Linked DNA regions of Homo sapiens. The protein of the gene in region 1 purifies or fractionates together with the protein of each later gene. This does not show direct contact. Each region holds a gene or a part of one and is shown in the gene's direction. Other genes may lie near its edges. The genes, in order: UGT1A9 and ABHD12.

Region 1 (3,824 bases):
ACAGAGGAATTCAGAACTCAAAGAAGGCTTTCCGGCAAAGAGCCTTGGATATGGCCCAACCACAGAAGTAAATTGTCATTGACAGAAGGATGGACACTTCATATTGCTCCTTCCTTGTTTCAGATGCCAGGATGTGTCTGGGAAAAGCATGCAGTTGGTTACATCTTGCTGGGAAACAGGATTCAGAGTCTGTGTCTTATCTGTCTGATGAGAAGGAAGCATTACTTGATGATGGAGTATGTGTTTGCACATGTATGTGTTTGTGTATGTGCAGGTGTGTTTGTGTGCAGTGTCCCAGACCCTGCATAGGGGATTTTCTTGAAGGTCTCCTGTAACAAAATCTCCTTGAGGCTATCCAGGGGAATTACATCCAGGGATGTAATTAAATACTTTAACAAGGATGGCAGATGGCCCCGTCTTCAATGTCAGGGATCAAATTTCAACGTGAGATTTGGAGGGGACAAACTTCTAAACTATATCATTCCGTGTGGTCATTCTTTTACATTCCAGCGTTCTAATGTGTGTGTGTTGATTAATGATGTGTAAATAATTCAGCAGAACATTGAAATAGTTTTAATGGCAAAAAGAGGAGGTCCCTAGTCTTTTTGAATTTTTGATGAGTTCCAACAGAATTAATGACTGGTTTTAGGTGAAAAGAATTCAGGCTTTGTCTATACCATCCATGGCAGGTGCGGCTCTGGGGGTGGGATATGGTTACAGATAAATAAGAGATCTGTGCTTCCCCCCTTGCTGTAAGATTCTGGCTATAGTCCAAGATCCAAATTCAAAGTTAGCTTTTGGTGGACAAGACTAAGGCCTCCCACTAAAATTATTTACTTCAAGTTTTTATTTTCAAAGTTTTCAAACATACACAATGGAGAGACTCAGTGTAATGAGCACCCACTTATCCATTCTTAGGTTAAATAATTTTCACTATTTTGCTCTACTAATTCATCTATCCCTTTATTCTATCTTTTTAAAGAAAACTTTTAAAAATAAATTTGTATGTTTTTAAAAAGAAATTCTTGGCATGTCATTCCATCACTGAACAATTCATTTAATATAAAAAATAAGAAAAATTTGTTACATAGCCACAATATCATTATCATATCTAAGACAATAAAAATTCTTTAATATTATCTCATTTACAGTCCATAATAAAATTTCCCCGGATTGTCTCACACAACATCTTTCCATACAGATCAATGGAATAGAATGGAGAATTCAGAAATAAACCCATACATATACATCCTTGGCCAATTGACTAGGTGCCAAAGTTTGACAAGTGTGTCAAGATCATTCAAATGGGAAAGAATAGTCTTTTCAACAGAAGACCCACCCTGGGGTCCTTGAGCTCCAGCGTCAGACTCCAAAACCATTTGTGGAAATCATCCAGCCACCTCCCACCATGCCTCTGATGAATCCTTCACCGATGGATTCATCAGAAGCATGGTTGATGATGAATTCACTGATGAATCACCCCTGTGTGCATCCACAGGGGTCCTGCAAATATTTTCTCACAGTCTGTTGAGTGACTTTTCTTACAAATACTTCATTGTAGAATAAATATAGGATTATAGCAAGGTTACAACAAATAGTTTAGAGAATTTTCATCTACCCTGTGTCCAGTTTCCACCATTGTTAAATCTCATGTTTCTATGGCACATCCATCACAACTCATTCACCAATATTGACGCATAATGATGAGCTAAAAGCTAAAGTCTGTTTCCTTCAGATTTCATTAATTTTTACTTAATTTCCCTGTTCTTTTATGGGATCCCAGTGATACCACCTGAAATGTAGTCATCATGTCTCCTTTGTCTCCTCCAGCCTGTGACGGTTTCTCAGACTCTCCTTGTTTTTAGTGACTTGGGCAGTTTCGAGCAGTCCTAGTCAGGTGTCCTGTAGAATGTTCCTCTAGAATGTCAGTGTGTGTTTTGCCTGATGTTTTCATCGTGGTAAAACTGGGTTTATAGACTTTTGGTAGGAAGACACAGAGGTCTTTTCTTGTTTTCTTGCGTGTGAATATTCAACTGTAGAAAAACAGAACCTTTTCTCCACTGCATTGCCTTTGTACCTTTGTAAAAACTTGGTTGTTCATACATCTGTGCACGTATTTCTAGACTTTGTATTCTGTTCTGTTGATCTATTTGTGAAATATTTGATTACTATAGCTGTGTAATAATCTATAAATGAGGTAGTGTTACCTCTAATTTTTTTTTTCAAATTGCTTTTGCTATTGGAGGTCTTTTGCATTACCATATGCATTTTAAAATAAGTTCATTAATGTGTGCAAAAATCCTGCTAGGATTTTGATTGGGATTGTATTTTATTTATAGATCAACTGGGGAGAAACAACATCTTAGCAATTTTGAGTTTTCCAATTCATTAACATATCTTTTTATTTAGGTCCGTCATCAGTGCTCTGTAGTTTTCAATGTACAGTCTTTCACATCCTTTGTCAGATATATCCCTAAGTATATCATGTTTTTGATGCTATTTAAGTGGTATTTTTAATCCAGTTTTCAAGTGTTCATTGCTAGTATAGTTGACCCCTGAACAATGTGGGAATGAAGGGGACCAACCCGTGTGTAGTAGAAAATCCGCATAGAACTTTTGATTCTCCAAAAACTTAACTACTAATAGCCAACTGTTTACCAAAAGCCTTGCCAATACCATAAACAGTCAATTAACACATAGTTTGTATGTTATTAGTATTATATCCTGTATTATGACAATGCAGCTAGCTAGAGAAAAGAAAATGTTATTAAAAAACGTAACATATGAAAAAATGCTCAACATCACTAGTTACCAGAAAAATGAAGATGAAAACCACAATAAGATATCATCTCACACCAGTTAGAATGGCTGTTATTAAAAAGTCAAGAAATAATAGATGCTGGTGAGGCTGCTGAGAAAAGGGAACACTTGTACCCTCTTGGTGGGAATGCAAATTAGTTCATCCCCTGTGGGAAGTAGTTTGGAGATTTTGCAAAGAACTTAAAACAGAACTGTCATTCGACCCAGCAATCCCATTACTAGATATATGTAAAAAAAATCGTTTTACCAAGAAACACATGCACTGGTATGTTCATTGCAGCTCTATTCAGAATAGAAAAGACATGAAATCAACCTAGGTGCCCGTCAACAGTGGCTTAGATGAAGAAAATGTGGAACACATACTCCATGGAATATGCAGCCATAAAAAAAGAATGAAATCATGTCCTTTGTAACAACATGGATGCAGCTGGAGGTCATTACCCTAAGGGAATATATACAGGCACAGAACACCAAATACCATTGTTTTCACTTAGAAATGGGAGCTAAATAGTGGGTACTTTTGGGCATAAAGATGGCAACAATAGACACTATGGACTCCTAAAAGGGAGAGGAAAGGCTGCAAGAGTTGAAAAACTATTGGGTACTATGCTCAGTACTTGGGTGATGGGAGCAATCATGCCCCAAACATCAGCATCACACAATATACTCAGGTAACCTGCACATGTACTCCTGAATCTAAAATAAAAGTTGAGTATGTATAAGAGGAAGTCATTCATCATAAAGGTCTCCATCCTCATCATCTTCCATTGAGTGGGCTGTGGAGGAGGAGGAGTAGATGTTGATTTTGCTGTCTCAGGGTGGCAGAGGCAGAAGAGGTAGAGGAGGTGGAAGTGGAGGCAGGAGAGGCAGGTGCACTTGGTGTAACCTTATGGAAATACATCATAATTACTGTCTGTTTTTTTCTCTTTGATGTATTTAAAAATGCTTTTATACAGTACTAATCCTTCTTCCCCATTTGCTTTAGTTTCAGTGCCCATAAGGGT
Region 2 (3,824 bases), on another chromosome or scaffold:
CCTGTGCTCCCCACTGGCCATGGATTCTCGGGCCTGTGTCAGCCCATGCTGGCCTCATGCTGTTCTGTTACCAACCAGAAGAGCCTTTTATCTTATCTTACTTTTTGGTGCTGCTTTTCTTAAATTGTGTGAGGAAACTGTCCATAGACCCCACTTTCTCAGGGGTGGCGGCCCTGGTGTCTGCGGGAAGACTGGTTTCTGGGGTGGATTCTGGCCTGGCTGGGAGGTGCGGGAGCCCCATTTGCAGGGCAGCCCCTGCCATGCCAGTCTGTGGGGCCTGGCGGGTGATTCTTCTGTTCCTAGCAGCAAAGCCAGGACACGGCCAGGGCAGAAGGTGCCAGGGCACAGCTCTGGTGGCCCCTTGGCAATGTCACCCCTGCTCCCTTAGGTAGGGTAGTTATGGGCAACGCCTTATAGATTTCTGAACTTAAACTGTCTGCACCCTTGACCTGTGCCTGGATATCTTAACCAACGCTTCTGAAAATGGTTTCCATCTTGTCTCCAGATATATCGATACTTCCCTGGGTTTGACTGGTTCTTCCTTGATCCTATTACAAGTAGTGGAATTAAATTTGCAAATGATGAAAAGTGAGTATTATGGGACAGGAACTAATTTTCCTATTTAGAAAAACTCTGAGAACCTCTGGATGAGCCTCTTTAGTCACAGTAATCAAATAGGATGGAATTCAGTGTATTTAGGGTCATTCTCTAGCAAACAGGTCTTTAAAAAGGGAAAGCCTGCTAGGGACCGTGGTTCACACCTGTAATCCCAGCACTTTGGGAAGCTGAGGAAGGCAGATCGCTTGATCCTAGGAGTTTGAGACCAGCCTGGGCAACATAGCAGGGCCCTGTCTCTACAAAAAATCCAAAAATTGACCAGGTATGGTGGCATCGTGTACCTGTGGTCCCAGCTACATGGGAGGCTGAGTTAGGAGGATCACCTGAGCCTGGGGAGGTCAAGACTGCAGTGAACCGTGATTGCACCACTGCACTCCAGCCTGGGTGACAGAGTGAGACCTTGTCTCAAAACAAAACAAAAAAAATTGTGGGCCAGGGGGCAAGTAAAGAACTGTAACAGAAAGAAATAAGAAATCTGAAAAGATTATAGAAGTAAAGCAATATTAAAATAACATAGTTTTTGTCCATAGAGTTGTTTTATTTCAAAATGGTTTGTGAAAACCAAAACACATATTAAAACAGTGATATTAACTGGTTGATTTTTCTTCTTTTTTTTTTTTTTGTTTTTGTTTTTTTGAGACGGAGTCTTGCTCTGTCACCCAGGTTGTAGTGCAGTGGCGTGATCTCAGCTCACTGCAACCTCTGCCTCCTGGATTCAAGTGATTATCCCACCTCAGCCTCCCGAGTACCTGGGATTACAGGTACCCGCCATCATGCCCCACTAATTTTTTTGTATTTTTGTAGAGACGGGGTTTCACCATGTTGGCCGGGCTGGTCTCGAACTCCTGATCTCGGGTGATCTGCTCGCCTTGGCCTCCCAAAGTGCTGGGATTACAGGCGTGAGCCACTGAGCCCTGCTGATACTGACTTAATCAGAAAATGACTTTGCCTCAGCCATTTGATTTGTGTTTGGTTATAGAAATATATTACAAAGTTTATTGTTAAAAATCTATTAGGTAAACCAAAAGTTAAGTATTCTAGTTAAGGGTTCTTTTTTTAAACCTTTTTCAGATTGTATTGATATTGTCTTTGTGACATTTTTATATCATGAATTTTGATTTCTTTAAAAAAAGAGGGAAGTAGGCTGGGCGTGGTGGCTCATGCCTGTAATCCCAGCACTTTGGGAAGTTGAGGTGGGCAGATCACATGGTCAGGAGATCGAGACCATCCTGGCTAACACAGTGAAACCCTGTCTCTACTAAAAATACAAAAATTAGCCGGGTGTGGTGGCTCGTGCCTGTAGTCCCAGCTAATCAGGAGGCTGAGGCAGGAGAATCGCTTGAACCCGGGAGGCAGAGGTTGTAGTGGGCCGAGATCGCGCCACTGCACTCCAGCCTGGGCGACAGAGCGAGACTCCGTCTCAAAAAAAAAAAAAGAGGGAAAGTAAAACACCCTATAAATATTTAATTTAATTTGAAACAGAATATGAAAAAAAATGGAGTATTTTTTCCCATCAAGTATGTTTTGGTTCTAAAAATAAAAATAGAACAAATTAAAAGTTGAACAAATATTTTAAGCAACAAACCCTGCTTGTTTGTAAATACTACTGTTTTGGAACTTGAAAAAGAATTATCTGGGCTGGGTGCAGTGGCTCACGCCTGTAATCCCAGCACTTTGAGAGGCTGAGGCAGGTGGATTACCTGAGGTCAGGAGTTCAAGATCACCCTAACATGGTGAACCCCGTCTCAACTGAAAATGCAAAATTAGCCAGGTGTGGTGGCACATGCCTGTAATCCCAGCTACTCGGGAGGCTGAGGCAGGAGGCGGAGGTTGCAGTGAGCCAAGATCATGCCATTGCACTCCAGCCTGGGCAACAAAGAAAAGAAAAAAAGAATTATCTGAATGAACTGGATTCCTTCTTAAAAAGCAAGGTTGTGACTGGGTGTGGTGGCTCACCACTGTAATCCCAACATTTTGGGAGGCTGAGGCAGGCAGATCACGAGGTCAGGAGTTTGAGACCATCCTGGCCAATATGGTGAAACCCTGTCTCTACTAAAATACAAAACAATTAGCCAGGCGTGGTGGTGCACGCCTGTAGTCCCAGCTACTCGGGAGGCTGAAGCAGGAGAATCACTTGAACCCAGGAGGCAGAGGTTGCAGTGAGCTGAGATCGCACCACTGCACTCCAGCCTGGTGAAAGAGCAAGACTCATCTCAAAATAAAAAATAAAAACAAACAAAAAAAGCAAGTTTGAGTACCGTGCCCCTGAAGCTGCCTTTGGCCTTGACCCTCCCAGCTGAGCCAGATGGAGTACAGGTGACCCTGGGTGAGACCCCCACCCTCAGCTCATTGGAAGTCAGGGGCACAGCTCTGAGGGCAGGAGGGGCTTTCCTGAGCTCAGGTGGGCCGTGGTCTGGGAAATCCCAAGTACTGCCGCTTCCTCCAGAGCCTCTGGTGAGAGGGACTCGCACATCAGACAAGCCTTACTGGGAAGCAAGAGTGTGTGCCTCCTGCCAGCAGCACAGACAGGGCGGGGGCTCCCCACCGGGTCCTGCTCCAGGTGCCAGGAGTGCACCAGCGCTGCCCTCACGGAGCACACAGCCCTGTTGGGGATAAAGGAGACTTGGGTCAGGCACCACCTCAGTGAGGGCCGCACAGGAGAGCCCAGGCTCCGCCGGTCCTGGCAGCCCATGCTTCTGTTATGTGGTTTGCTGAAGGATTTGGATCTATCAAACCTACTGAAAATCCTAAATCACTTCTAAGTGTTTAGAGTTGGAGTGACCATAAATGTCACTTACACAGATAAATTAGAGAACATTGACTTTTTTTACCAACAGATTCCTAGTAACATTCATTTACACTAAGTTTCTTGGCCCACCTGAATTATTCCGCTTAAAAATATATATATCTGGTGGAAAAATAATCATTTTCAATTTTCAGAAGACATTCCGAGGGCCAGTTATATAGCTGTGATTGACACCTGTCATCTAGCTGTAATAGATGTTCATAGAGATAATGAAGAGTTAACTTTCAGTTGTCTAGTAAAAAGAAATCCAGCAGAAATCAGGCTGTTTCCCAAAACACACCCTGAACCCAGATCCCTGCCATGGACAGAGGGTCTGGGCAACTCTGCCCTTTCCCTGGTCTTGGTCTAGCCCCTTCTCCCTCCTACAGCGTGAAGCACATCTCCTGTCCCCTGCTCATCC

The links.
Region 2: the proteins of UGT1A9 (region 1) and ABHD12 purify together in Homo sapiens (affinity purification with mass spectrometry; one large-scale study listed by BioGRID and IntAct). This does not show direct contact.

Annotation. Positions count from the first base shown.
Region 1 is NC_000002.12:233,674,785-233,678,608, forward strand, and holds part of UGT1A9 (UDP-glucuronosyltransferase 1A9 precursor), read left to right. Parts: intron 1-3,824.
Region 2 is NC_000020.11:25,303,597-25,307,420, reverse strand, and holds part of ABHD12 (lysophosphatidylserine lipase ABHD12), read left to right. Parts: intron 1-505; coding exon 506-588; intron 589-3,792; coding exon 3,793-3,824.